Linked DNA regions of Homo sapiens. The protein of the gene in region 3 purifies or fractionates together with the protein of the main gene of each other region. This does not show direct contact. Each region holds a gene or a part of one and is shown on either strand. Other genes may lie near its edges. The genes, in order: PLXDC2, SPAG9, GCSAML and ZMYM6.

Region 1 (7,726 bases), on a different chromosome or scaffold from region 3:
TGTTCAGCAGGACAAGAAGAGTATGTTCAAACTCTGTGTATTTTCTGCATCATTTTCTGTGAATCTAAAACTACTCTAAAAAAGTAAACTCTATTAATTAAAAGAATAAGTAAATCATTCTGCCACACAGACACATACATATGTATGTTAATTGCAGCACTATTTATAATAGCAAGGACATGGAATCAACCTAAATGCCCACCAATGATAGACTGGATAAAGAAAACCAGGTACATATACACCATGGAATACTATGAGGCCATAAAAGAAATGAGATCATGTCTTCTGTAGGGACCTGGATGGAGCTGGAGGCCATTATCCTTAGCAAACTAATGCAGGAATGGAAAACCAAATACCAAATGTTCTCACTTATAAGTGGGAGCTAAATGATGAGAATGCATGGGCCAAAGAAGGGAACAACAGACACTGGGGCCTACTTGAGAGTGGAAGGTGAGAGGAGGGAGAAGATCAGAAAAAATAACTATCGGCCGGGCGCAGTGGCTCACGCCTGTAATCCCAGCACTTTGGGAGGCCGAGGCAGGAGGATCACCTGAGGTAGGGCGTTCAAGACCAGCCTGATCAACATGGAGAAACCCCGTCTCTACTAAAAATACAAAAATTAGCTGGGCATGGTGGTGCATGCCTGTAATCCCAGTTACTTGGGAGGCTGAGGCAGGAGAATCGCTTGTACCCAGAAGGCAGAGGTTATGGTGAGGCAAGATCTGGCCATTGCACTCCAGCCTGGGCAACAAGAGTGAAACTCCAACTCAAAAAAAAAAAAAAAAAAAAAAAAAAGAAAAGAAAAAAAAAGAAAGAAAAATAACTATTGAATCCAAGGCTTAGTACCTGGGCGAGAAAATAATCTGTACAACAAAACCTCCAGGACATGTGTTTCCCTATATAAGACACCTACACATGTACTCCTGAACCTGAAATAAAAATTAAAAGAAAAACACCATACACTTGGACAAAGAAACATAGAGTAAGACATAGTCTATAATTATAACCTGTTTACACAATTGCCCCCAAGTAAATGAAAAATTTCATTAAAAAAGTTTTTAAAGGAATAGAAATATCTGACATGGTTACAGAATTTTTAAAAGTTGGCCTATTTAATTGTAATTAAATTATGCCGCACTTTATGGAATAGATGGATTTCAGAAGATTTGACCAAAGGGCATTCTTTCTTTATCCTCAACATCCCTTTTATAATCTAGGATTCAATTCTCAAGGAAAAAGTAATCCCTCAGCTGAACATAAGATATCGAGTCTGTAATATTATAAATACCCATTAACCTATGGGTTAATAATGCTCATTAGTAATTCTCACAGTTCAGGTTTCTCTCATAATTAGAGACTATCTAAAACATTACATTTGTAGTTCCTGGAACTTTATTTTTATATTCTTAGTCCAACAGGCCTTACTTACTTTGTCAGAAGAGTTGGAAATCAAACACACAGTTATTCTAGTCTAAATATTCTGTAAATTTAAGGCTACAATTTAGTAAATTTTCATTCTTTACTTTGTCAGTTTGTTAAAATGAAACAAACCTAAGTTTAAATTTCCTTGTTTTTTCTGTCACTTAGGTCTCTAATTAATCTTTCCTATCTGGTTTCAACAAACATTAGCCAAAGCACAGCCATCCTAGAACTCTCTCAGTACTGGGTCCTTGAGCCACATAAGTTTTCGTGTCTATAAATGCTTTTGAAATTAGAACCAAAATATAACAAAGAAATCAACCAGGTGAAAAAAAAAAAACTAACTAAAGAAAATACGTAAATATAAACATTTACATTTAGATGAGAAATCCCTCCAAATTGAATTTTTTTTCTTAGAGACATTTCACTCTAATTACTCAATAATTAGTCAATATAATTACTCAATAATTTTATGAAATTGATGAGTCCTGATGCCAACAATATCAGAATACAAAAGAGCTAACAATCAATGCACCCAGAAAATTAAAACTAATCAAAACATTTTTTATTAAGCAAAGGAAACCAAGAGGCAAGAAAATGATTTGAGGATCATGGCTGTAAAATGTCCCTTTCTTGACATTTGGAGGAAAGGCAGCAGTCAAGAACAAGGGGAAGGGAAAGAAATTATCAACGCATCACTTACTTCTTTGTATCCAAAGATGATTCGTCCATCCATGAGCAGGGTTGCCTGGAATGTGAAGCTTCCCAGGTTATAATTATCCTGGAGATGTACATGGTCCCACTGGACCACAAGTGCTGTGCCTATACACCCATTGAAAAAAGAAGAAATGCAATGAGAAAAACATACCAATCAATTCTGGTGGGAGTTTTCACAAAAATGTTTTTGCATCTGGCCTTCAAATCTGGTAGTTGTACTATTTCGATTTTATGTGGTTAATCAAATTCTGTTATTGAAATAGCATTTGGGATTTTTTTTAAAGGATTGAGTACTCTCTAAATATTTAGTAAAATAGAACCTCATACTAAGGTCAATAATTGAGCTAATGCAGTGTGGGGGAATTTTGCCTTAGGAATTTTATTAATGTTAATAGATACTGTCTGCTTAAATTTCCATAAGCCACTTTCAAAATGCAGCCCAAGTGGATTGAATGAACTTCAAATACATTTGACAAATGCTGAGAGAGAAACACATCTAAAAAGTTAGGACCACATACAAAAGACCTGAAAATGTCTTTTCCATACTTAAAATTATACTTTTCCACATTGAAGGAGTTCCTTTAACACTAATGGGAATTTTCTCCTTGAGTTCACAATGCTTGTATTTCTGTCTTTGTTGTGTTTCTTCCAGGAAGCTGTAAGAAGCTCAAAGGGCCCTGGACTAAGATTTTTGAAGTCCCCTTGAAGCACACTGGGATGAAACTTCAGTGCTGTATATTATATTCTGAATCACTCTGTCAGTGTTTACCATAAACGATTGGGCATGAAATAAAAACTGAAACATAGTTTAATAGTCACCAGTGAGAATTCAAATTTTTGTTTTAACTGACATTGTGTACTCTCTTTTTTTAAAAAAAAAGAAAAGAAATGAGCTGCTAAGACTTTTTCTTCACTCTAAATATTAGATTTTTCTGTTTGGTTAGAAAAACTGTTGCCCAAAAAAGTTGTGCTGAAAATGAAAATCATAGAACTAAAAGAGCAAATCTTATCTCCCAGTAATAAATATCTGATATATTTAAAAATTACAATTGCATGGAAGAATTAATTTTCAGTAACTATTTGGTGCTATTAGTAATATCTCTTGAGCTGGTTGACAATTTTAAATAGACACATTATTTCAAATATTTTGAACACCCAATTGTAAGTCCTGAAAGGATGTTGAAGTAAAGAAATGTATTTCTTTTGAGGCAAAACTTTAAAAGTAAAAAAGAAAAAAAAGTTTTTTAACTTGACCTTGGTGCTTTTAGCCATTATCACTGCTGTGAGTGAAGACCACTCAGGTCTCTTCCTTCCACGGGCATCTCCGTGTCTATATTGTCCTGAGGGAGGGAGGGAGGGAGGGAGGGAGGAAGGAAGGAAGGAAGGAAGGAAGGAAGGAAAAAGAAAAGAAAAGAAAGAAAGGAAGGAAGGAAGGAAGAAAGGAAGAAAGAAAGAAAAAGAAAGAAAGAAAGAAAAGGAAGCAAGGAAGCAAGGAAGAAAGAAAGGAGGGAGGGAGGAAGGAAGGAGAAAAGAAAAGAAAGAAGGAAGAGAAAAGAAAAGAAGAGAAAACAAAAAAAATAGAGCAAAAGAAGACAGTAGCCAGGAAACCTCCCATGATTTTATAAGTATAGGAATTTTCTGATTGTGAAATGCCTCCTAACTTCTTTTTCCTTCACACATGTCTACAACCCTCAAGCTCTAGTCTATTCCTTATTTTCTAGTTTCTATCGCACTCTGGTGATGCAGTGAAAACAATGAACCAGAGGGCAGAAGACTTAGACTTGCATCTTGTCTCTATAAAACTTTCCATGTGAACTTGGACACAATTAATCTGCATGAACCCGTTTCCTTTCCTATAACATGGGGAGTATAGTTTTTGCCTTCAAGACATTCCTGCATTAAATACAAGAAAATATACTTACGCTTGATTATTTATGAAAATAAGAGGGCTATATAAATTAAAGTTTTTAATGCCAATTCTGAGGAAGGGATTCCTAATATTTTGTTAGTAGCAGGTTGTTAAAAACCACACTGTTGACCAGGTGCGGTGGCTCACAACTGTAATCCCAGCACTTTGAGAGGCCGAGGCAGGCGGATCACGAGGTCAGGAGATCCAGACCATCCTGGCTAACACGGTGAAACCCCATCTCTACTAAAAAAAATATTAAAAAATTAGCCGGGCGTGGTGGTGGGCGCCTGTAGTCCCAGCTACTCGGGAGGTTGAGGCAGGAGAATGGCATGAACCCGGGAAGCGGAGGTTGTAGTGAGCAGAGATCATGCCAGTGCAGTCCAGCCTGGGCGACAGAGTGAGACTCCATCTCAAAACACAAAAAACAAAAAAAAGTGTACTGTTTGCACATGTTAAGTTTTATATTATGTAATAGCATAGCTCTCTCAACATTTGCTGATTTAAATTTTCTAACCTGCTGCTGTCTTTTCCAGAGAAGTTTGCTTTCCTAAATTGTTGAGTTTCCAATCTTTAAGTATCCTGTCAATGATTCTAACTAAACTTGAAAATATTTCAGCAAGTTGTTGTGGTATTAAAAGGGCTTCGTGAAGAGTCTTACAGTGTTTAAAAGTGTTTCATTCATTTAATAAAACGTAAGTTTTCATTATCATATTGTTTGAACTCAATATTCCTCAATATTTGATTCCTATGGAATAAGTCATTACACAGAAGATATTTCAGTGGGTAAACAATACATGCATTCTTGAGTATTAATACTTTTACAATTCTCAGACATAAAACTCACTTTACGTATGTAATTATTTTTATTCATTCATTGAATAATTATTTAGGACCTACGTCCTAAATAATAAAGTGTCTATGCAGGGTACTGGAGATAAAATGATTTCTTATAGCCACAGTCCTTGTTTTTAAAGAACTTAAGAGTTCAGTTGGAGTAGTATACATCAATTTTTAAAAATCATTCAAATACGAGTAAAATTCAAATATTAAGAGCTACCTAGGAACAAGGTATATGAAAATATATGAAGAGAGACTTATTTAATATGCTTTATGATTTTGATAGCAACAGTATAAAAACTTGGTCATTAGAATCATGTGCCCATGAGTAAATGACCCTAACATCACCTAGTGAATGTCGGAGTTTGGAAAATAGTCAGTGTTCACTAAATCATTTATTGTTTCCGTAGGATAGACTCCCAAGGCAATTTTGCATGGTAATCATAGAATAAGTTTCAGATAAGTTTCTGGCTGCAGTTTTGCCTCAAGAATAGTGTACTTACAGTCCACTTGCACATCCTTGGGTGTTAGCACCTCATGAGTTTTTAAAAAATGGAAGAGAAGAGAATATAATAGTTCTTAAAATAACAGAGATGAATCATTATTGCAGCTAACACTTAGAGTTACCTAATATTGGATCATACCTTGGTGTTACTCAAGATGTTCAACGTGTATTTCCTAAGGTGAATGTCTAACTATGTTTAGTTTCCTCATTGTGCTATTTTGACCTGTAAAATGGCTTTCATCACACTGGTCAGGAGATGGCTCTTAGCAAAGTGATCATATTTCTCCAAGGCTACAGCTACCATCAAGTCTATTCCAACCATGAGCAAATTTCTTCCTTGATCATCAGAAATAAGATAAAAGTAGAAATAACTCTGTTCACCCCAAATGCTTGTATTATTTGCAGGCATAAAATTGTCTTTTAAACAAATAAATATCATTTTTGAATGATAAATACACAGAAAATTCTATATTTAATCATTGCAATATAAACTCTTTGTTACCTATAATTTATTTTCTCTACCAAAGTTACAGCTTTCAATAAGATGTTGAGATGAAAATTCATTTATGTCTCCAAGACCTTGAATTTCTCGCTTGGATTTTGGCACCACTTAATGATTTATTATAGTTTTTTTCTCTATTTTATATGTCCCAAAAAGTAATAGCAGGGATACATTGCTCTTGGTATATTTGATAAATCTTGACAGGCTCTCACTCATTTTCTAAAGTCAAGAAAACTTTATTTTCTTCAGTTGAACTACCCACAACTAACTACTTTATACTTCTTAAAATATGTGTTCATCTTATTGATACATACAAGTCATAAGTTTTGGAAATTTAATGTCAATATATTATGGCACTTGCCTCAACTGGAAGATCAGAACTAACAAAATTATTCTTATTTCCATTTTTTTCTGATGGGAAAATTGGAAAACTGACTTATTGAAATAGCATCAAATAAATGCGTTTGCTTTGTCTGAGGTCTTGTCTACAGCAACTCAGTTTTACTGTGTATAGTAGATGTTAATAAATGTGTTGAATGAATGAATGCCATTTGTGTACTTTATAAATCTTAGCAGTATAATATTTGTCCTCTCAGACCATTTGCATCAAGCAGTTTACACACCAAAAAATAAACAGTTTACAAAAACATTAACATGAATCTGATGCTTGAGGTTTAAAAATATACATGCAGCAAAAAATAGGCTACTCAACACATACCATTATCAAAATATCTGACAGTTGAATTTCTGGATACACTGGGATCGAAATTTGCCATTAAAGGTGCTATGTACTGTGTGGCTGTTAGCATTCGATGTACGACTTCTCCAGTGTATATGAAACCTAGAATTAGAAAAATAGGAAACATATTCAGAAAAAGAAGCCCATATAAAATTATGATTAAAATACTTCCAACTCAATTACAGTCATATTATGAAAATAAAATGTCATGGTAGCTGGAAAAAAAGGAACATATTTAATATCTTAGTATCTAATTAACAATACTTGGTCTGGATTAAGTAACAAATTCTTGTATAATTTGGTAGAACCTTGCAAATCCGAAATCTATAACATGTACAATTTTAATTGGGGGGAAAGTGACCATTATCTGGATGAGATTATTAGGCTAAAAATGCTAATACAGTATTATAAGTAATTCAAATATTCAATTTGCTATTATTAATCCCTTGTTATTTTAACAATAGCTTACCACACAAGTCCTTTTAATTAGTGAATTCATTTTCATGGTATTTATGTAAGCTACCATCTCAGCATAGGAATTTTAGAAACGACATCTGGTAAAATGCAGAAAATGTTTTGATTCTTTTTTTTTTTCTTGAAAGTTGAAAGGGGGCTAAACACCCATGGTGACGTTTTCAAATTGTTGGTTTGCTCAAGCCTCTATATTATCAGCACACTGTCAAGAAGATAAAGTCTATATGTTTGCAGGTAAGGTGGTAAAACATTGACAATGCACAAATGCCTCTCTATTTAGAGATTTAATCAATGCCAGTCTATTCTAGCAGTTGGATAATGAGAGGGAATTTATTATGGAGAACTTTGGCTTTGAATTAACTTTCAATAGCTCCTATGTTACATGTCTAACCCACTTTCAATTATTCACACTAGGTTTATTTACTTTGTGGATTATCCATGACAAATTGTTAATCCTGTGCTGGCTTCTTGCTTTCAAGGTCTTTAGCTGTCTGAAAGGAGAGTCAGCTCAGGGATTGCTAACTAATTTTAATATTAATCTAAGAAATACACAATTGAGATTACACATGCAAATGCACACACACAAATAAAATGCAAGGCAAATTATTTGTGACAATGCAATTG
Region 2 (7,726 bases), on a different chromosome or scaffold from region 3:
ACAGGCATGAGCCACCATGCCTGGCCCATTTTTTAAAAAATTTATTTTTGAGACAGAGTCTTGTGCTGTCGCCCAGGCTGGAGTGCAGTGGTGCGATCTCAGATCACTGTAACTCCCACCTTCCAGGTTCAAGCAATTCTCCTGCCTCAGCCTCCCTAGTAGTTTGGGATTACAGGCACGCGCCAGCACGCCCGGCTAATTTTTGTAGTTTTAATAGAGAAGGGGTTTCACCATGTTGTCCAGGCTGGTCTCAAACTCTTGACCTCAGGTGATCCCCCTGCCTCGGCCTCCCAAAGTGCTGGGATTACAAGCGTGAGCCACCGCACCTGGCCTAAAAAACACATATTTTAATATTTTTATAGATCTTTTGATTGATTGATTGAGACGAGATCTCACTCTGTTGCCCAGGCCAGAGTGCAGTGGTGTAATCCCGGCTGACTGCAACCTCTGCCTCCTGGGTTCAAGCGATCCTCCCATCTCAACTTCCGGAATAGCTGGGACTACAGGATCATGCCGCCATGCCTGGCTAATTTTTGTATTTTTTGTAGAAATGGGTTTCCCATGTTGCCCAGGCTGATCTTGAATATTTGGGCTCAGACATTCCTCGCACCTCAGCCTCCCAAAGTGCTGTGATTACAGGTGTGAGCCACTGCACCCAACCTATTTTCTTTTGTTGTTGTTGTTTTTTTTTTTTTTGAGATGGGGTCTTGCTTTGCCACCCATGCTGGAGTGCAGTAGCGCGATCTTGGCTCACTGCAACCTCTGCCTCCCGGGTTCAAGCAGTTCTCCTGCCTCATCCTCCTGAGTAGCTGGGACTACAGGTGCTCACAACCACACCTCGCTAACTTTTGTATTTTTAATAGAGATGGGGTTTTACCATGTTGTCCAGGCTGGTATTGAACTCCTAACCTCAGGTGATCCACCTGCCTTGGCCTCCCAAAGTGCTGGGATTACAGGTGTGAGACACTGTGCCCGGCCAACCTATTTGCTTTTTCTTTTCTTTCTTTTTTTTTTTTTTTTTTGATATGGCATTTCACACTTGTTGCCCAGGCTGGAGCGCAATGGTGCGATCTCAGCTCACTGCAACCTCCGCCTCCCAGATACAAAGGATTCTCCTGCCTCAGCCTCCTGAGTAGCTGGGATTACAGGCATGTGCCACCATGGCCAGCTAATTTTGTATTTGTAGTAAAGATGGGGTTTCTCCATGTTGGTCAGGCTGGTCTCGAACTCCCAACCTCAGGTGATCCGCCGGCCTCGGCCTCCCAAAGTGCTGGGATTATGGGTGTGAGCCACCACGCCCGGCAGCGGCCAACATTTTTTCATATTTTTAAAAATACCATTTTTTTTTTCTGAACTGTTTGTTTTTGTGATTTTTTTTTCCTTTGGTTGGGTTTTTTTTTTTTTCTTTTTTTTAGAGATGAGGTTCAGGCTGGAGTGCAGTTGTGCAATCATGGCCCACAGCAGCCTTGACCTCCAGGGCTCAAGTAGATCCCACTTCCTCAGCCTCTGAGCAGCTGTGACTACAGGCATGCGCCACCATGCCTGGCTAATTTTTAATTTTTTTTGTAGAAACAGGGTCTCGTTATGTTATGCAAGCTGAACTCACTATGTTGCCCAGTCTGGTCTGGAACTCCTGGGCTCAAGTGGATCCTCCTGCCTTGTGGATCCTGCCAAAGTTTTTTTTTTTTTTTTTTTTTTTTTTTTGTTGAGACAGAGTCTGGCTCTGTCGCCAGTCTGGAGTGCAGTGGAGTGTCTTGGCTTGCTGCAACCTCCACCACCTGGGTTCAAGCGATTCTCTTGCTTCAGCCTCCTGAGTAGCTGGGACTACAGGCGCGCGCCATCACACCCAGCTAATTTTTGTATTTTTAGTGGAGATGGGGTTTCACCATGTTGGCCAGGATGGTCTTGATCTCGACCTCAAGTCATCTGCCTGCCCCAGCCTCCCAAAGTGCTAGGATTACAGGTGTGAGCCACTGCGCCTGGCCTTTTTTTTTTTTTTTTTTTTGTAGAGATGGGGTCACACTGTGTTGCCCAGGCTTGTCTTGAACTCCTGGCCTCAAGACATTTTCTTACCTCAGCCTCCCAAAGTGTTGGGATTGTAGGTGTGAGCCACCACACCTGGCCATGGTTAACGATTCGAATAATGTTCACACTGCCCCTAGCCAGAGTAGATAGAGATATGCCCCTGCACCTAGTCATTCAGACACTTTCTGAAATGAACAATCTATGTTTGTTTTCTGGCGGGAGTGGGATGGGAAGGGGTATGGTTGTTGCTTTATGAAATAATAATTTGTTAGTTAATTATTACTTAAGCTCCTAAGACATTTTTTTTTAAAGACAAAGACTAGCTCTGGATTAAGACATCTTTTTTTAAATTTGAGATTTCTGAATGTGAATATCTAAATGAGATACCATTATGTGTCCCTGCTGTAGTGACACTCATATTTTTATTTAGTTAAAAATCACAAAAGAACGCTACGCATGGTGGCTCATGCCTGTAATTTCAGCACTTTGGGAGGCCGAGGTGGTGGATTGCCTGAGGTCAGGAGTTCAAGACCAGCCCTGACCAACATGGTGAAACCCCGTCTCTACTAAAAATACAAAAATTAACTGGGCATGGTGGCGGACGCCTGTAATCCAAGCTACTCCGGAGGCAGAGGAAGGAAAATCACTTGTACCTGGGAGGCGGAGGTTGTAGTGAGCCAATATCTTGCCATTGAACTCCAGCCTGAGCTACAGAGTGAGACTGTGTCTTCAAAAGAAAAAACAAAACAAAAAAAAATCACAAAAGAGGACACCAAACTGGGTATAGTACCAAACTGGTTCAGAGGGTAGATTAGTAGATTGACTATTCACTGGATTGCTGAAGTGTGTGCCATAGGTCACACATCCAGTTCTGTGCTTGAGAGAGTACAGGATTCCTGCTTCTTGAAATCTTTACCTTACCTTTAACTACATGCTGCTTACTTATGTTGTACTGAACTTTGCTTCTCAGGAGAACTGATGTTAGAACCTACCCAAGTTATTTTGCTCTGCTCTGCACTCAATGAATACAGCTGTTATCTAAATAAGTTATTAGGTTGTGGTCAGAAATATCTGCATAGACCAGTTTAATAATGTATGTAATGTTATATATATTTAAAAAGCTGTTATTTGGAAATGGGTATATATAAGTTCTGTTTTTTACTTTGAAATCTTGACCAGTGATATTTGATTATTGCTTTGAACATAGCACTGTGTTTTCTTTTCTTTTTTTTTTTGAGACGGAGTCTTGCTCTGTCACCCTGGCTGGAGTGCAGTGGCGGGATCTCGGCTCACTGCAACCTCCGCCTCCTGGATTCAAGCGATTCTCCTGCCTCAGCCTCCCGTGTAGCTGGGACTACAGGCGCCCGCCACCACACCCGGCTAATTTTTTGTATTTTTAGTAGAGATGGGGTTTCACTGCGTTAGCCAGGATGGTCTCAATCTGACCTCGTGATCTGCCCGCCTCGGCCTCCCAAAGTGGTGGGATTACAGGCATGAGCCACCCACCCGGCCATACTGTGTTTTATTTTCTTAAGAATTACAGCATTCAGTAGTTTGGCATAATAGGCACACCCAAAAATGTGTGAGGTGAACCATGGGAATTTATATATTAATGTAATAGAGAAGTACCAAGTTGAGGGTATAGAATTTTATTTTATGTTATTTTTTTCGAGACAAGGTCTGGCCCAGGTTGGAGTGCAGTGGTGCGATCTTGGCTCACTGCAACTGTTGCCTCTTGGGCTCAAGCCATCCTTCCGTCTCAGCCTCCCAAGTAGATGGGACTACAGGTGTACACCACCACGCCCAGCTAATTTTTGATATTTTGTAAAGACGGGTTTCACCATGTTGCCCAGGCTGGTCTCGAATTTGTGAGCTCAAGTGATCTGCCTGCCTCGGCCTCCCAAAGTGCTGGGATTACAAGCGTGAGCCACCACGTCCAGCTAGGGTTTTTTTTTTTTTTTTGTAAGGTTAGTAAACTTTTTCAGTAAATCCACCACCACCCCTCCCAGCTTTTTATTAGGTAAACTTTCAAACATATAGAAAAATGGAAAGTACATTTGTCATTTGTATACCCACTATATAGATTCAGTAGTTGTTGTTTTATTTATCTGTCTGTATATGTGGATGTGTGGGTGTGGATACACATATACACACATACACATATTTAATTGCTGAACCATTTTAAATTGCAGACATACTTTGCCCCTCAGTACTTAACATATTTAAATTACAGACATTATGATACTTTGCCTCTCAGTACTTAACATATTTATCTCCTAAAAAATGAGAATATTCTGCCATATAACCACCATATTATTTACGTTTGAGAACATTTCCAAGGCCGAGTGTAGTAGCTAATGCCTGTAATCCCAGCACTTTGGGAGGCTGAGGTGGGCGGAACACTTGAGCTCATGAGTTGAAGATCAGCCTGGGTAACATAGCAAAACCTTGTCTCTACAAAAAATATAAAAATTAGCGTGGTGTGGTGGTGTGTGCCTATAGTCCCAGCTACTTGGGGGGCCGAGGCAGGAGGATCGCACCAGCCTAGGAAGTCAAGGCTGAGGTAAGATGTGTTCATGCCACTGTGCTCCAGCCTGGGCAACACAGTGAGACTCTGTCAAAAAGAAAAGAAAAGAAAAAAAAGAACCTTTGTAATATCATCTAATATTAATTTGAATTAATTTTTAAGAGCACAGTATGTGTCAGTTATTATATAGCTAACTAGCTTCTTAATATGTTTATAATGAATTAATGAAACTCATCTGGGAGGAAGTGTTTGCATTTTAGTTACTTTTCTATAAGAAATTTAAATTTGAGGCCGGACGCAGTGGCTCACGCCTGTAATCCCAGCACTTTGGAAGGCCGAGGTGGGCAGATCACGAGGTCAAGAGTTCGAGACCAGCCTGACCAACATGGTGAAACCCCGTCTCTACTAAAAATACAAAAATTAGCTGGGCATGGTGGTGTGTGCCTGTAATCCCAGCTACTCCGGAGGCTGAAGCAAGAGAATCACTTGAACCTGGGAGGTGGAGGTTGTGGTGAGCTGAGATCGTGCCACGGCACTCCAGCCTAGGCGACAGAGCAAGACTCCATCTCAAAAAAGAAAAAAGAAAAAGAAAAAGAAATTTAAATGTGAAATATATAAAACGGAATTAAAATTGGCTAATTTTGTTTTAAAATTAGCACATTGGCCAGGCGTGGTGGCTCATGCCTGTAATCTTAGCACTTGGGGAGTCTGAGGCGGGCGGATCACCTGAGGTCAGGAGTTCGAGACCAGCCTGACCAACATGGAGAAACCCTGTCTCTACTAAAAATATAAAAGTAGCTGGGCTTGGTGGTGCACGTCTGTAATCCCAGCTACTCAGGAGGCTGAGGCAGGAGAATCGCTTGAACCCAGGAGGCTGAGGCAGGAGAATCATGTGAACCCGGGAGGTGGAGGTTGCAGTGAGCTGAGATCATGCCATTGCACTCCAGCCTGGGCAACAAGAGCGAAACTTTTGTCTCAAAAAAAAATAAAAATAAATAAATAAAATTATCACATAAAAACTATTATGGACCAGGCACAGTGGCTCATGCTTATAATCTTAGCAGTTTGGGAGGCCAAGGAAGGAGGATAGCTTGAGCCCCAGAGTTCCAGAACAGCCTGGGCAACATAGTGAGACCGTATCTTTACAAAAAATAGAAAAATTAGCCGAGTGTGGTGGTATGCACCTGTGGCTCCAGCTACTTGAGACGCTGAGGTGGGAGGATCCCTTGAGCCCAGGAGGTTGAGGTTGCAATGACCCCTGATTGTGCCACTGCACTCTGGCACACAGCACCACTTGCTCTGGGTGACAGAGCAAGACCCTGTCTCAAAAAGAAAACAAATTATTTTTCCCCTTTTTGAAACTTTGAGATATAGAAATACAGAAAATGACCCTATATTTAATATTTTTGCTAGTAACTATTTTTTTTTTTTTTTTTTGAGACAGTCTTTCGCTTTGTCACCTAGGCTGGAGTGTAGTGGTGCAATTTCATCTCACCACAACCTCTGCCTCCTGGGTTCAAGTGATTCTTGTGCCTCAGCCTTCTGAGTAGCTGGGACTACAGGTGCCTGCCACCACACCCAGCTAATTTTTGTATTTTTAGTAGAGACGGGGTTTTGCCATGTTGACCATGCTGGTCTTGAACTTGCAACCTCAGGTGACCTGCCTGCCTCAGCCTCCCAAAATGCTGGGATAACCAGCACCAGCCACCGCCCCATGGCCATCTTTTTTTTTTTTTTTTCTTAAATCATGTATTTCCAGGATATCTTGTTTCTGACTTGTTTACCTACTCTGCCAGGGTTATAGAGCCTGAGAAATTCTTTTACCTGCTGATAAGATTTCCTCTGGGGTATAGGCCTGGAATTTTTATGATTCTGGATTCTATTACTGCCCCCCTCCCTTTTTTTTTTTGAGACAGTGTCTCATGCTATTGCCCAGGCTGGAGAGCAGTGTTGCAATCAGAGCTCACTGTAGCCTCAACCTCCTGGGCTCAAGCTATCCCCCTACCTTAGCCTCCCAAGTAACTGAGATTATAGTTGTGAGCCACATGCAACATCTATTATTGCCTTTTTTTTTTTTTTAACCTTTTTTTTGATGGAGTCTTGCTGTCGCCCAGGCTGGAGTGCAATGGCATGATCTCGGCTCACTGCAACCTCCACCTCCCGGGTTCAAGCAATTCTCCTGCCTCAGCCTCCCGAGTAGCTGAGAGTATAGGCGCGTGCCACCATGCCCAGCTAATTTTTGTAGTTTTAGTAGAGATGGGGTTTTACCATATTGGCCAGGCTGGTCTCAAACTCCTAACCTTGTGATCTGCCCACCTTGGCCTCCCAAAGTGCTGGGATTACAGGCGTGAGCCACCGTGTCTGACTATTATTGCCCTTTAAAGTGTGTTTTCTCTTGTTCTTCCTGCAGTTTTAATTAAATTAATTAATTTTTTTTGGTAGGGATGGGGGTCAGACTATGTTGCCCAGGCTGGTCTCAAACTCCTGGCCTCAAATGATCTGCCGCCTTGGCCTCCCAAGGTGCTGGGATTGCAGGTGTGAGCCACTGCATCCGGCCTTCCTGCAGTTTCTTTTAAAGAGCTGGACAGGAACTTTATGATTCTCTAGTTCTACCTTATCCCATTCCCCCAAGTAGGTGGAAAGATAAACAGAAACATAGATGCTTAGAAAGAACAAATATTTATTGAGCCAGGCTCTGTTCTTTTTCTTTTTTTTTTTTTTTTGAGATGGAGCACTCGCTCTTGCCCAGGCTAGAGTGCAGTGGCGGGATCTTGGCTCGCTGCAACCTCCGCCTCCCGGGTTCAAGCGATTCTTCTGCCTCAGCCTTCCAAGTAGCTGGGACTACAGGCGTGCACCGCCATGCTTGGCTAATTTTTGTATTTTTAGTAGAGACGGGGTTTCACCATATTAGCCAGGCTGGTCTTGAACTCCTGACCTTGTGATCTGCACACTTCAGCCTCCCAAAGTGCTAGGATTACAGGCGTGAGCCACTGCACCCGGACTTTTTTATTTTTATTTTTAAAAATTAAGACAGAGTCTTGCTCTATTGCCCAGACTGGAGTGCAGTGGCTTGATCTTGGATCACTGCAACCTCCGCCTCCCAGGTTCAAGTGATTTTCCCACCCTAGCTTCCTGAGCAGCTGGGATTACAGGCACCTGCCACCACACCTGGCT
Region 3 (7,726 bases):
GCTATTCACAGATGCAATCAGAGTGCACTACAGCTTTGAACTCCTGGCCTCAAGTGATCTTCCTGCCTCAGCCTCCCAAGGAGCTGGGATTACAGGCCTGCACCACTGCACCCAGCTCTTCTGAGGGTTTTTATTGTTAATAAGGACCAAACATTATCAAATGCAGTTTTAAACTATTGAGATAACCTCATGATTCTTCTCTTAGGCTTCTAAAGTAGTTAATTATGTTAATAAATATTTTTGCTAATTACCTATCTTTTAATTTCTGGGATAAAACCCATTTGATTGTGATGTGTGCAATTTTACTATAGTTTTAGATTTAGTTAACTTATATTTTATTGAGGATTATTGCATCTATTTTCATGATCGAGTTGGACCTGTGATTTTTAAAAATTTGATTTATTTAATTTGAAATGAAAGTTTACCAATCTCATTAAATGGGTTGGCATCATTTTACATTTCTCTACTTTCTGGAACATCTTATATATGAGAGAGTATATTTGTCACTTGAAGTTTGGTAAATTGTGTACGCAGCTGTGTAAGCTGGATTTTTTTGTTATTGATGTTATTCATGTGTCAGTTTTTATATTTCATTTTTTCCAAGATATTATTCATTTTAAGCCATAATGTTTATTATACATAATTCTTCATCATGCCTGTTTTATGTCTGTAATACTTATTTTGAACTTTCTGTTTTCATTATATTTTTGTCTCCATTCCTTATTTCTTTAGTTGGTCTTTCCAGACTTTTGCTATCTTACTGATATTATTCTTTTCTAAGATTTGGTTCCCTATCATATTTATTTTTACCCACAACTTTCTTGTTTCCTTTTTCTTCTCCCAACTTCTTAAGATAAATGCTTACTTTGTCATTATTAGTCATTTATGTTTTCTTATGAATGTATTTTAGCAAGCTATTTTCTTCACACTTCACTTTATCCTTCAAATAGTCTTGTGTAGCTTGCATTATTATTTTATTCTGTGTTTTTAGAAAGTTCCTTTATGATTCCCTCTTTAACATAAGGATTATTTAGAATATTACTTGTGCCTAGACAGGTACACTTTTGGTTATAGCTTATTGGGTTTTAATTTTACTGCTTGATAGTTGGAGAAATCATGTGCAAATTGTTGATTTTGGGGGATGTTTACTAAGACTTTCTTTGTAGAGTTATGAAGTCATAAGTCAACATCCAACATTTAGAAAGTTTAAAAATAAGAAGAAAAAACACAGAAGGTATAAAAAATTATTCATAATCTTAATTCTTTGGCCAAGATACATCTAAAGCTTAATAAAATACCTATTTTTGAAAACAATAGAGTATTAGTTGATTTATTAATTTGGTCAACAAATTTTTGTACATCACCTATGGCCTGATATTATCTGAATTCCTCTGGATTAAGAAAAACACTTTTTACTTTATTCACAGTAGAATTTAGTATCCAGTTATATTCAGTAATATTAATGGTGTGGAATTCCAATTAGGTCCCTACTGATGTTAAATACTTTTCCTGTCTTGTTTTCAACTTTAAAATACAAACATCCTTTAGATGTGTAAGTCAATGAATCACTAATAACCCCAAGGACAATTATTTTACCAAATTCTTTCTTTATTGACCAGTTTAGGAAGATGGAATCGTGAGAAAACTAGACTCCAGGAAAAGGGGAAAAAAGGAGACAGTTAAATTACTTTTTACCTGATTTACAATCTACACTATTAAATAAACATTACATCCAGATTTGACTGTGATCGTGACTATTATACAAAATCTCTACATCAGCAACTGATTCTATAAAAAGCCCCCACCTCTGTAAATTGATATTCCTTTATATTTAACAAATATATTCTTTGCTTAGTGGCTTTGTGTGTTGATATCTAGCAATGTTTCTTGAACATATACATATGACCTCTATTCAGGGAAGGCACTTTCTCAGCGTTGGTTCGAAATGCTTTCCCCGAATACTGCTGGTAAGCAGAAGTGAGGCTCTTATATGCAAAGCTACCTAGAAGCAGAAGGATAGACCAGTGCTGCAGAAGTGACAATAGAGGAAAAGAAAACCATCAAGGAAATGCTATGTGTGGACAACTGGTGGAGTAGAAAGTTTGATTAACCAAGTCACAAACATAAGCTGCTAACTATTGTGTTAACCACGCAAATCACCTGATTTCTCTAACTTCGTCATTTAGTGTTTGCCTGATTATCATAAAGATGATGATAATTGATGGCAAAACACCAAGAGTAATATGAAAAAGTCAGCTTTCCTGAATGTATGTAAAGATCCCAATGTCTTATCTGCACATGGATGCCCACATGCAGCAGGGCCCAGAGACGCTTGCTCTGGTTCAGTGGGCCAAGACTGGCAGTCCTCATAGTCCACAAAGGTGTGTACAAGCAGATCATCTTGCCTCAGGTTGTTGCAAAAGTGATGCTTCCCTGTTGTTAAGGTCTTTATAGCTTCCTGGGAGCTCTCACCTCTTCTAGAGATGCAGGAAGTTTGCATGTTGGGTCACAAGAAATCCTAAGACTGACAGAATCAAAAGTCAGACTATGGGCATTCTGTCCCATCAGAGTCCTGGTCTCTGTGGTTAATTTCTGAAATGCATTCTATCTGTGACTGCTTATTGATTTTGAAGGAAAGGGAAGTTTGTCAAAAAGAAAAGTCAGGTTTGGTTTTAATGGTCTAGAAAGTTAGAGAAGAAGGTGAAAAAATGTGGAGGGCAGTAACAATCTCTCTTTTTTCTTATGTGTTTCCATATAGTTGCCTGGGAGAGAATCAAAAGAAGCCCAAGAAAGGAAACCCAGATGAGGAAAGAAAACGGTAAGAACAGAGCATCTCAGAGTTTTTTTGTTTTGTTTTGTTTTGTTTTTTCATTGAGATTACTTCCAGAGTCTCTGCCCCACTAGAACTAACACCCCTTAGGGCCGCTATAATAGAGTTCTTTGGTGATTACCTGCATGACTTGGCAGCAGGTTAGACATTGACTCTGTCTAAATAAGAAAGACAGGGTATTAGCCACGTGTTTTGTTTCTATTGATTATATAATGTGAGTGTAGAAACATAAAGATAGAATAAAGGATGTTTGGTTTTGGTTGGTTATATGTGGTGGCCATATTTCCCACCTTTTCCTTACAAGTAGCCAGAATAATCTTTGGAAAACATGTCTCATTATGCCTTTTCCTTGCCCGAGACCATTCAGTCATTCTTCATTGCATTCAGAATAAAATGCAAACTCTTCACCAGGGCCTACAGTTCCATAAGGATTGGATTCTGCATCTCTCCCATCTGGTTCCTCACTCTCTACCTTCACCCACTATCTTACATGCATTCTCCTTTTATTTGATGTTCTTTAAGCCACCAAACTCAGCCTCACTTTAGGGCATTTCTACAAGCTGGTCTTTTACTGCACAATTAAAAAAAAATTCCATATTTGCATTTGGACTGATTGATAACGTCTCCTCCTGGAGATGCTGGCCCTCATGCCCTTCTCTGAAAGATTATGGAGGAACTTTGCTTCTGCACCGCATGGTTTTATGGCACTAGAACCTACTTATATTTGCTGTGGCCTTTATCTGAACTTGTAACTCTATATGTCGTTTGAGCTCTTTATAGTCCACTTCCTTCATAGACCATACGCACTTTAACGTCACTTCTGTTTCACTTGCTAATGTATATCTGTTGCTCAACCCTTGCAAGACACTCAATGGAAAAAAGAAAAAAAATGGAGTGGAAAAATGGTAGATATCTAGATGTTGATATCTTGCCTCAGCTTAGATGAACAGAAACACCCTGCCTTGTTGGTTAACTGTAGGCTTTTCGTATTCTTGCACTAAGCTCTTTTTTAATCATTTCATCTCAATGTCTTGGTTTCTGTCTCTGAGATGGCTTCTTCTTCTTTTCCATGGTATGAAGGGGCAGAGGATTGAGGAGATGAGCCAGGTATCTGTTGGTGATGTGAAATGATGTTTGCAGGCATCAGCCCCCTCCTAAATGTTTGAACGACACTTTCCTGCACAAAGGAGAGAGTTGGCTTCATGAGTCAGCCCTCAGGGACAGTGGAGTTGGCTATGCCTATCTTGTGACCCTTTCTCACGCTCCCCCGACTCCCCCCACTCCCCTTATGGTTTGTAGCTGGAGAGGAGATAGCAATGATTTGGTGATATTATTGAACCAAGGTTCTTTTATCAGCTGCTGTGAATCAGTTCTGTATAGCGTCTTTTAAACTAGACTTTTAATTCAGGCATTCCCATTAGGCATTTAACTTACGCATAAACTAGTCATCTAAACTAGGCTTTTGTTTCATCATGTCTAAAGTGAGATCTGCACTAGATGTCATTCTCTAATATTTTTCTGTTAAAGGAACTGAAGTGTTAACATTTTCAAATACCAGCAAGCCTTTATTACAATCAGACAATAACTAAATGTAGATAAATTAAATGTCGTTAGGGTTTTCTCATGCAAGGAAATTTTAGGAGCACGACTCATGGAATTTTCACTAGTCAGCATGGTGAGGAAGATCTGAACCATTTTACCATTCTAGTCAATTGCAGTCAAATATGTGTTGCATGTGGGCTAAGAAGTCAGTTTCCTTTTTGGCTAATTTCACAGGATGATGTCTATTGAATAAAGTTGGATTTTCTACATCTTCCTGAGTCAATTTTGATTATTGGATTCTTATCAGAATATTATTCATTTAAACATATTTACAGAAAGGACAGTATGAGCTCTTTCAAGTCACTTAACTTTTAAAATGTAGGCTTATAGAGGTATAGTACAGTAAAATTCACCCTTCTCATATATACAGTTTGATAAGTTTAGGAAAAACATACTCAGTCATGTAGTCACCACAATCAAGATACAGAATATTTCCACCACCCTCCCTTTCCCTTCAACCCCTGGCAACCACTGATCTGATTTCTGTTTTGCATTTTTTCCAGGATGTCATAGTATCATTGCTTTTATCTTTATTGCATTCTTATTTTTGCTTTCCTTAGTTTTTTAAATTGTTGCTATTCTAATTGTTTTGAATTCAAAACTCAATAATTTTGTTCTCAACTTTTCTTGTTTAGGAATGGAAGCATATATGAATACAAACTTTCCCTCTAAATAATATTTTACCTGTATCCTATGTGTAATTGAAGGAAATACTATTATTGTCTAATATTTTGCAACTTTTAATTTATTCTTGGACCTGAGTAGTTTTTAAATTTCAAATATTGTTTTATAGTCTTGAATATAATTTAAATTTTATTTGTTACCAGTATCTGTGTGGTCTGTGTTATTTCTGCTTTATAGATTTTATTAAAGTCTTCTTTGTCCTATATGTTAACTTTGAGACAAGTTACTTACATTCTCTAAATTTTGGGTTCTTCATATGCAAAATAGCCTTAAAATACTACAATTTTAGCTTGTGTTTATGGAAAAAGAAATCACTGCCTATTTCATCAGCACGATGGCTGTCTGGCACCAACACTCAATACATACTAGCTGGTATCTGTGCACATCATTATGTGCCTAGATTTTGAAAATATATTATGTAATATTTTGTTCAGAGATCATAATTTTGAAATTTGTCTGCTAGAGAAACATTATTGTGTATTTCAGATATTCACTGTCATTATTTCTCCTGCTTGTTATTAGCTGAGAGAAATTAATCTACTGGTTTATTTGAGTTACCTTTCATGTTTTCTTTTTCTTTCTTTCATATGGATTCTAAATAGTTTGGTGTGTAGCAATTCATGACAGTATTAGGTGTTTGTCGGTTTTAATCTTTATCATGCCATCTTCTGTCCAGCTTTTTTTTTCTGAAATGACGGCCTTGCTAAAATCTTCATCTTCCGCAGTGTGAGAAGGTCCCTGTGACGGGAGATCAAGGACACCCAGGGACATTGCAGGCAGCTTCCTCTCGGATAGGGAGGATAGAGGGAGGTCCTGTTTCATTAGTATTGCCTAGTCTAGTTCCCATATATCTATCTATATTCATTTACTAAGGCTCTTATAGCGAAGTACCATAGACTGGGTGGCTTAAAGAACCAAAATTTTCTTTCTCACAATTGCGGAGACTGGAAGTCTGAGATCAACATGTTGGCAGAGGTGGGCTGTTTTGTGAAGTCTGTCTTTGGCTTGTAGATGACTGTCTTATCCCTGAGTCTTCGTATTGTCTTCCCTCTGTGTTACGACTGTGTTCAAATGTTCTGTTCTTATAAAGACACCAGTCATACTGAAATAAGGCCCAATCTTATGACCTTGTTTTAATTTAATTACCTGTGTTAAGATCCTATCTCCAAATACAGTCACATTCTGAGGTTCTGGGGATTAGGACTTCAACATGTGGATTTTAAGGGGACATAATTTAGTTCATGAGAGATGTCAAGAAAATCTAAGAGGATTCTTAGAAATCCAGGAATTCCTGCCACTGTCTGGACATTTCCAGCGGCCACAGCATGCAGAATTGTTCCACTGTATTTAAGAGAGAGTGGACAAGCAGTAGGTGCTGATAATCCACAGCCCGGACTTAGATAGGTTTGGATTTTGTGGCTGGAGCCTCGGAACGACAGATAACTGAGTGGCTGAATTCCCCATTCACCAGCTGCTTTGTTACATAACTTCACATTTTACAAAGTCCAAATGTGGTTGTGCAGTAATGTTTGCTTTATTTCTTTCCTAAAGACCTCGTAGGTTTTAGATTATCTCAGTACTAAGACATTTGAGAACACATCTTCTTTCCTTGGAGAGTAATACAGTTCTTGGATCGTATCTTTCTCCTCACAACTTAGTGAACGTAATTCCACTCTGCAGCTGTGGAGCTGAGCCACCTTAAGCCGCCTTCCTGATGACTTGGTTTTACATACATTTTCCCCATGAAAGTTTGAAAACTCATTATTTGTTCCCTACCCCCACCCCCAAACATGTATTATTTTCTTTTATACATATGTCTTTATTTTAATTTTTTTTCTCACCTTTCTTGAGCTATGAATGAAAAACAAAAATTGTACATATTGAAGGTACACAATATGATGTTTTGATATGTATATACGGTGAAGTGATTACCACTATAAGTACATTAACAACTTAATATATTTATTATCTCAGACAGTTACCATTATTTTTGTGTGTGATGAGAATGCTTGAGATCCACTCTTTTAGCGAATTTCAAGCACACGTTGTCACTGACTATAGTCACCATATCTCAGTGTTCCATGCCATTTGTTTTTTCCCCTGTGAAGTCGGTTTTCAGATTTAAGTATTTATTTTATGACTTTTCTCTCATTCTACTTTTGTTTCATTTGTTTAGATTTTTTTTATTTTTATTTTTTATTTTTTTGAGACCAAGTCTCACTGTTGTCACTGGGGCTGGAGTACAATGGCGTGATCTCGGCTCACTGCAACCTCCGCCTCCTGGGTTCCAGCAATTCTCCCACCTCAGCCTCCCAAGTAGCTGAGACTACAGGTGCACACCATCATGCCTGGCTAATATACAACTTTTTTGTACAGACAGGGTTTTGCCATGTTGCCCAGTCTGGTCTCAAACTTCTGGGCTCAAGTGATCCATCTGCCTTTGCCTCCCAAAGTGCTGTGATTACAGGCATGAGCCACCACACCTGGCCTACTTTTAAAACTGATAGAGCATACTTGTACATATTTGGGGGGTACATGTGATATTTTGATAAATGTATACAATGTGTAATGATTAAATCAGAGTACTTGTGATATCCATCTACTCAAACA
Region 4 (7,726 bases), about 210 Mb from region 3:
TAACCTCCATCTCTTGGGTTCCAGTAATTCTCGTGCCTCAGCCTCCTGAGCAGCTGAGCTTACAGGCACACACCACCACACTTGGCTAATTTTTGTATTTTTAGTAGAGATGGGGTTTCACCATGTTTACCAGTCTGGTCTCGAACTCCTGGCCTCAAGTAATTTGCCCATCTCAGCCTTCCAAAGTGCTGGGATTACAGGTGCGAGCTACTGCACCTGGCTACCAAATGTTTTTAATCTAATACTTAGAAAGAAATACTTAGGAGAGCTACTTTATGAATATATCATGGATCTATCTACTCACCTGGATATTCTGACCATATTAGCTGTCCTACTTGCAAAATTATTTTATTCTTAGCTAGGATAAACTTTGCTACCCATGAAGAACTGTTCCATTTTATATTTTCTGAGATAATTAACGTGTTGTTCTTTTCTCCTTGCCTATAAGCAAGCTCTGAAACAAATTTTACACTAGTCACAGCAACTATATTAACTATACTCTCCCTTTGTTTGCCCTGATTTTCTGTTTTTATTTCTGGTTTATTAACTAAATAGTATATATCCCTAGTTTAAGTTATTTATGTACAGATACATTCAATCAAAAAGCAATCAAATCTAAGTTTCCTATAAAAATTAGTGCATATACATTATTGGCCTTTTGGTGTGCTTGACTATCAGAGCAAAAAGTATTAGAATTACTTTTCCCTCAAGGGGAAATCTTAAAGACTTCTTAAAGAAAAATTTAAGGAAATTCAGGCTATTTGAATCCAATGAAATTTTGTTTTTATTATATTATTTATAACTGTATATGCTGATAGTGTCCTAGCACTGACATAAAAATCCCATTAGCTAAGTTTAATTTTACCTTTATTTTGTGGAAGACAGTCATTCATAATTTGCTGATGACAAAACTCCAAGACACAAAATAGGTTACAGAAATGTTTAATGTTGCCTCGCCACTTTATGGACTCGCTTAGTTTACCCTGTCGTTTACAACCATCACACTTGGCCATCTGAAAAAGAAATGTTAGACAAGATAGGCTTAAAACTATAAAATAATGAAAAGATAACATTAATCATAAAAAGAGGGACTACGAAAACAGGATATATGAGTCAGTTGAGACTACAAAATGTAAGGTTCTTACCTTAAAATACTGATTTTATTTAATTATTTGTTTTATATAGATGCCCTAAATCAAGATAATATAAAAACTGTGGCCAGGCACGGTAATTGTGGGATCACGCCTGTAATCCCAGCATTTTAGGAGGCCGAGGTGGGCGGATCATGAGGTCAGGAGTTCAAGACCAGCCTGACCAACATGGTGAAACCCCGTATCTACTAAAGTACAAAAATTAGCCAGGTGTGGTGGCGCACGCCTGTAATCCCAGCTACTTAGAAGGCTGAGGTAAGATAATCGCTTGAATCCAGGAGGCAGAGGTTGCAGTGAGCCGAGATCGCGTCACTGCACTCCAGCCTGGGTGACAGAGTAAGACTCTGTCTCAATAGAAAAAAAAAAAAATGCTCTTCTGTTTTCAAAATTACCAATAAGGGAATCTATCTAAAGATAGGTTCATAACTGGGCATGGTGGTGCCCACCTCTCCTGGTTACTCGGGAGGCTGAGGCAGGAGAATCACTTGAACCCAGGAGGCAGAGGCTACAGGGAGCCAACATCGCCCACTGATCACGCCACTGCACACCAGCCTGAGCAATAGAACAAGATTCTGTCTGGCTGGGGGATGGGGGGTGGGCAGGTGGGATGGGGGAAGAAAAGATACACAATGAAAAAAGTAAGTAAAAAAAAAATAAAGATAGGTTCAACTTCTAAAAAATTAAGCAGCAGCTTACAGTAGTTGATATAATATGGGCTTTGGAGTCATAAAGATTTTGATTCATTCAGCAAATATTTAATTAGACATCCTTTGTCTTAAGCACTGTGATTGGCCCTAATTATATAATCATGAAAAATATATTACCCTCCCCCAACAATAAAATTCTATTTTTTTAGAGGTAGAAAAACAAACAGTGATTTACCAGAGTGTTATAGATGCTGTCTTGCTGTCACCTACCAGCTTCCTCAAGAGCATATTACTTAACTTCCCTGGACCTCTCTCCTTTTCCTTATTTATAAAATGGCAGTAATATACTTACCTCTTGGGACTATGGTAAGGATTAAATGAAATGACACTTACAGAGCACCAGACATGTATTAGTGGTTCAATTAACTGTAGCTACCATTGTTAGCCTTTCAAAAAGTTAATCTTTTTAAAAATGAGGTAGGAATGGTTGCCAGCTATTGTCCTTTGACCTATGAAGTGAGACAAGGTCTAACTTCAAATTCCTCAGAGTAACCTGAATGAGAGAGCCACTTCAGGCAACATTATGTGAAGTTCTAACCTGAAAGAAGTCAAATAAGGGCAAAGTGCCTCATAAGAAGGCAAAAATAAAAGGAACATATCCAACCAACAACAAAGTCTGCAGAAATCCTATACTTTTTATCCCAAAGATTTCCTGTTTATATTCAATTGAATTTTTCTATTATAGCCCATAACTTATTTTATCCAGTGCTAAACACCAAATTTTTCTTCACATAATTTGAATACATTTTAAATAAAAACAATTTGCACTGATTTCAGAAAGCCAAAAAAAGTATATTATCACATTTACCTGATAAAACAGAACTGTAAATTTGGACATACAATCTTCACAACAAAACTCTTCTAACTTGCCCTCCAATCGATTTTCTACCAAATTTGGGGATGTCTGTGAACAGTAGCTGCACATCTTACAGTAGTTTCCCCATCGTTCTCCAAAGTCACGGGCAGAGAGGAATTTGCAAACTGAGGATCAGAGGGATGAAAGGAAGAAAAATCAAATTTACATTAACTGAGGAGGTATAATAAGTTTCTGTGGTCTTAGATATGAAACTTTAAGCTAATTTCTAATACACAATTATTTGCCTCTAGATTACAGGACAGTCTCTATATTCACAAACCAAACTCATACCACCTTTTATTTTATTTTATTTTTTGAGACAGAGTCTCACTCGTTTTGCCCAGGCTGGAGTGCAGTGGCACAATCTCAGCTCACTGCAACCTCTGCCTCCCAGGTTCAAACGATTCTCCTGCCTCAGCCTCCTGAGTAGAGCAGCTGGGATTACAGGTACCTGCCACCACACCCAGCTAATTTTTGTATTTTTAGTAGAGATGGCATTTCGCCATGTTGGCCAGGCTGGTCTCAAACTCCTGACCTCAGGTGATCTGGCTCGCCTTGGCCTCCCAAAGTGCTGGGAATACAGGCGTGAGCCACTGCGCCCTGCCACCACCTTTTAAATATACTCTAAATATTAGGCCATTTATATTCAGAAACATTAGAGGTATAAAAGTTTTTTAAGCCAAGAAGCAGCAACTGTTTTAAGTTCCTCTTCGCAAATGAGTGCAAGAACAAAAAGATCTCTGATGTCATAGCTAAACTTATGAAGAGATTTTCTTTATTAATACCACTGATGTAATCATTTTTACAGTTTTTTATTGCAATTACTGCAACATTTAAAAAGACTGACTTTCAGCCAGGCACAGTCGCTCACGCCTATAATCCCAGCACTTTGGGAGGCCGAGGCAGGAGTACCACCTGAGCTCAGGAGTTCAAGACCAGCCTGGGAAACATGGTGAAACCCCCCGTCTCTACCAAAAATAAAAAAAATTAGCCAGGCATGGTGGCACGCTCCTGTAGCTTCAGCTACTTGGGAGGCTGAAGTGGGAGGATCCCTTAAACCGGGGAGGCAGAGACTGCAATAAGCCAAGATCATGCCACCACACTCCAGCCTGAGTGACAGGGCAAGACCTTGTCTCAAAAAAATAAACAAACAAAAATAATAAATAAAAAGATTGACTTTAAAGTGAATTAACTATAAACACAATTCAAAAAAACCTTTTTTTTTTTGGAGACAAGAGTTTCGCTCGTCGCCCAGGCTGCAGTGCAATGGCATGATCTCAGCTCACTGCAACCTCTGCCTCTGAGGTTCATGCAATTCTCCTGCCTCAGGCTCCCAAGTAGCTGGGATTACAGGCGTGCGGCACCATGCCCGGCTAATTTTGTATAGAGACGGTGTTTTTTAACAGAGATGGGGTTTCACCATGTTGGTCAGGCTGGTCTTGAACTCCCAACCTCAAGTGATCCACCCACCTCAGCCTCCCAAAATGCTGGGATTACAGGCGTGAGCCTCCATGCCCGGCCTCCAAAATACTTCTAATTACACCTTGTAAGACAAAAAGAATGTGAAAACTAATCATGGCTTAATTGCCCAAGTCGTCATGAATTATAACAACCCATGCTCTGTGAATAAAACAACTTTGTCTTTACCTTCACTACAGAATGGCTTATCAACCCCTGAGAATCGCACAGTCTCCTTTATAATTTTCTGCAGTTTACAGTAGTCACACATTGCCACAACTTTATTTTTCTTCTTGTATTCATCAGAGCAATTCTTGCCACAAAACAGAAACATTTTACCCTGCAGAGAAACAACAGTCCATTAAGAGCCAACTAAACAGTTGCTTTATCTTTAAGAACTCCTTTTCATGTCAAAGCAAATTGAGTGATCAAAATTGAAAACACAAAAGTGTTTCTACTGGATGAGTTTATATACAATCCCTTTCATGATCTCTCTTTACCTTGTAAAAAAGAAGTTCTGGTTTTGTGGCAAATAGATGGTTACAGTGCTGACACTTGAGTTTAACAACTGTATGGGTTAAAGCAACTTGCTGGGATTGTTCAGCAAGAGGTTGGAGGCTGGCTGCAGCAGAGCCACGGATGGAGCTGGGGGAAACGGCAGAGGTGTTACCTCCTCCTATTGACACTGCTGACCTGGAGGAGGGCGGGCTTACAACCACTTGGCCCTGAGACAGGGGCACCGCCGAAGAGTTTGTTCCTTTTGGCTTGCTAAATACATTCTGAATGAAAACAAATAAGGTAAAGATTTTATCAACTGAGAAATAAGATAACTTTGTACTTTTCATTTCCTCATTTTAATAAATCAAGTCTCCCACAAACATTTTTTAAAATTTTCTATCTCACAGAAAGAGTTTAAATGGTATATTTCCAGAATAAAAGGACTGAGAAATACAACATTAAAAGGTCAAGGACTGGAATTCAGGCTTTCCTGACAAAGACCTCCAGTATATGCCTCTAATAAATTAGAGCAGGCCTCTCCTTCCCCCTAAAACTTCCCCCTACCTGCACTCCCATCATCAACCAGCTTCTGATGGCTACTACGACACAATAGCTACCAGCAGTCTCTTTCTCCCTAATGCCAGGGATACTACATCAGGCATGTTCCTACCCTGGAGATTACTAAACTCTACTCTTTGTGTATGTATTGCAGAGAGGGAGGAGAAAATGGGACAAGTGGATGCTTACAATTCCATGCCAGGAGTCACTGTGTTTCTGACACAGGATGAGAGGAAGGGGTATGTGAATCCCATCAGGCTACTGTTCTTCACCATACCACCTACCCAAACCACAATCCTAGCTTCCATCTTTTTGAAGGGGAGAGACCCAAGGGAGAAAGTGGGAGGGAATGACAGTTTAGGCTAGGATCCTAAATAAAGAAGAAACTGCTGAGACCCAATATCTGGGTTCAGATATTTTGTAGAAATGACCTGGTTGGGCCCCTGGATGAAACAAATTTTTTTCTTTTTAATTCAAATTTAAACTTTCATAAGAACAGGCCTTCAGCAGTTAACACTGTGCCACAGATCGATGCCTAACAGAACCACATGCATAATGTGCTACCTTAGATCATACCTGGAAAGCAACCACACAACTGGAGCTGCAGAAGCTGTATATAGTTCCATTTGACATGGCTAGGTGATACTGAGGGATTGCTGAGGTTTTACAACTATGACATGAAACCTGGACACCTTGGTGACAAAAAATTAAAAACAATGATTAAGTTATACCAATGAACAAACAATACAAAAATGTATTGGGAGAATGAAAAAATTAAATAATCAATAATATACCAAAAAAATCAAGGAACTTTATAAAAATCTGAAATCTAACCACAACTAACCTCTATTAAGTCCCACTTACACAAAAACTAACTTGGAAATTTTAAGTGTTTTTTCTTTCCTCTCACATATGAAATTATAAAATACTGTATATATTGCAACCAAGAAAATCGGGGAAAAACTATTTTCACATAAAAGTCAGTTATTTAAAAGTCAGTCTTGGGTTTTTATTTAACTAAATAGATAAATTTAGCTTGTAACAAAATCAGAGAAAAGCAGTTACGTTTTTCTTCAATAGTTATTAAATCTATAAATTTATCAAATTTAAACATTACCTGAAGAAGTAACAGTCTTAACTCTGTAAGCAGATAAGCAATTAATAGAGCAGAAAAGCTCTGTTTTTCCTGAATCATTTGTAGTCTCAATCATTTCAGCTGAGGGCCTCAATGACTTCCCCAGGGCATATGGAGGAATTTGGGCAGAATTCTATTAAAATAAAATAACATTAGATACCTAGTACAAACATACATATTTACATATTGTTCAAAAAAGTAAAAAGAAAAGCTACCTACAACCACGGTCCTTGGTTGAAATATTTGAGCATGATGATGAAACCACACTATTGGGAGGTGGGAAAATAAGTTCTTCCAGACAACAATAAAATAGAAACTGAAGAAAATTAGTAACTATTCAGATAGAGATCTTAGCAAACAAAACACATGAATTCAAACACAAGTAATGAATTAAATAGTCATTACATACTTTTTAATCACCAATAACCAGAGAAGACCAGCTAACCCATGAACCAAAGGGTCATTCTTGGTATAGTCTTGTACATCAATCTAGAAGAGTCTACCACCTTTAAGGTTACTTAATTTGTGAGATTCTTTAGCAGGAGATAGAAATGATATTTAATGTATATTAATAGAGATCCTACACAACTACCTATTTTTCAAGCTGAGTTTCATAATAAAATCTGCTTATAAGTTTATTCATGTTTTAAGAAATAATAAAAATAGCTACCATTTACATAACCAATATTATAACTTACTGAATGCTTACCATGAGTCAGGCCCCAGGCTAAGAAATTTATATATAGTGTATCACAGAAACCTTTCAACAACAGAGTGAGGCGCTCTCAAAAATTACATTAACAAAAAGTTTAAATTAACAGATGAGCAGAAGAAGTAGGAAATTAAACTCATTTCATCAGGCTCCAAAGTTCAGGCTCCTAACCACTACACTATGCTGTCAGTGATACATTATAAGGTCTCTCAATATGAAAAGAAATTGTAGGAAAATATAAATTGTGAGGTTTCACTACATAATCTTCCTAGTAAAAAGACAGAGTACAATACTAGTAACAAAATTAGAAATGGAACTGATTTTGGGATCATATATAAAATAACATGGATTCTTTTCCTGTGAAAGTAGAACCAGACTGCCAAAAATGGCAAATCTTAAAAAAAGAGATTCTTTTCAGTGATGAATGTCCATATGTCCATTACCAACTGCTCAAAGGAAGCAACAAATCAAACTTGCTAACTGAAAAAAAGTTTAATTATCATTTACAAGATACATCTTTGTTTTTTTTTTTTGTTTGTTTGTTTGTTTTTGAGACAGTCTTGCTCTGTCACCCAGGCTGGACTGCAGTGGCACAATCTCAGCTCACTGCAACCTCCACCTCCCGGGTTCAAGCAATTCTCCTGCCTCAGC

The links.
Region 1: the proteins of GCSAML (region 3) and PLXDC2 purify together in Homo sapiens (affinity purification with mass spectrometry; one large-scale study listed by BioGRID and IntAct). This does not show direct contact.
Region 2: the proteins of GCSAML (region 3) and SPAG9 purify together in Homo sapiens (affinity purification with mass spectrometry; one large-scale study listed by BioGRID and IntAct). This does not show direct contact.
Region 4: the proteins of GCSAML (region 3) and ZMYM6 purify together in Homo sapiens (affinity purification with mass spectrometry; one large-scale study listed by BioGRID and IntAct). This does not show direct contact.

What each region holds. Positions count from the first base shown.
Region 1 is NC_000010.11:20,142,299-20,150,024, reverse strand, and holds part of PLXDC2 (plexin domain-containing protein 2 isoform 1 precursor), read right to left. Parts: intron 6,731-7,726; coding exon 6,608-6,730; intron 2,242-6,607; coding exon 2,123-2,241; intron 1-2,122. UniProt on the Homo sapiens protein: May play a role in tumor angiogenesis.
Region 2 is NC_000017.11:51,106,650-51,114,375, reverse strand, and holds part of SPAG9 (C-Jun-amino-terminal kinase-interacting protein 4), read left to right. Parts: intron 1-7,726. UniProt on the Homo sapiens protein: The JNK-interacting protein (JIP) group of scaffold proteins selectively mediates JNK signaling by aggregating specific components of the MAPK cascade to form a functional JNK signaling module.
Region 3 is NC_000001.11:247,553,649-247,561,374, forward strand, and holds part of GCSAML (germinal center-associated signaling and motility-like protein), read left to right. Parts: intron 1-2,758; coding exon 2,759-2,818; intron 2,819-7,726.
Region 4 is NC_000001.11:35,006,086-35,013,811, forward strand, and holds part of ZMYM6 (zinc finger MYM-type protein 6), read right to left. Parts: intron 6,497-7,726; coding exon 6,346-6,496; intron 5,921-6,345; coding exon 5,805-5,920; intron 4,952-5,804; coding exon 4,673-4,951; intron 4,513-4,672; coding exon 4,362-4,512; intron 2,840-4,361; coding exon 2,667-2,839; intron 1,014-2,666; coding exon 866-1,013; intron 1-865. UniProt on the Homo sapiens protein: Plays a role in the regulation of cell morphology and cytoskeletal organization.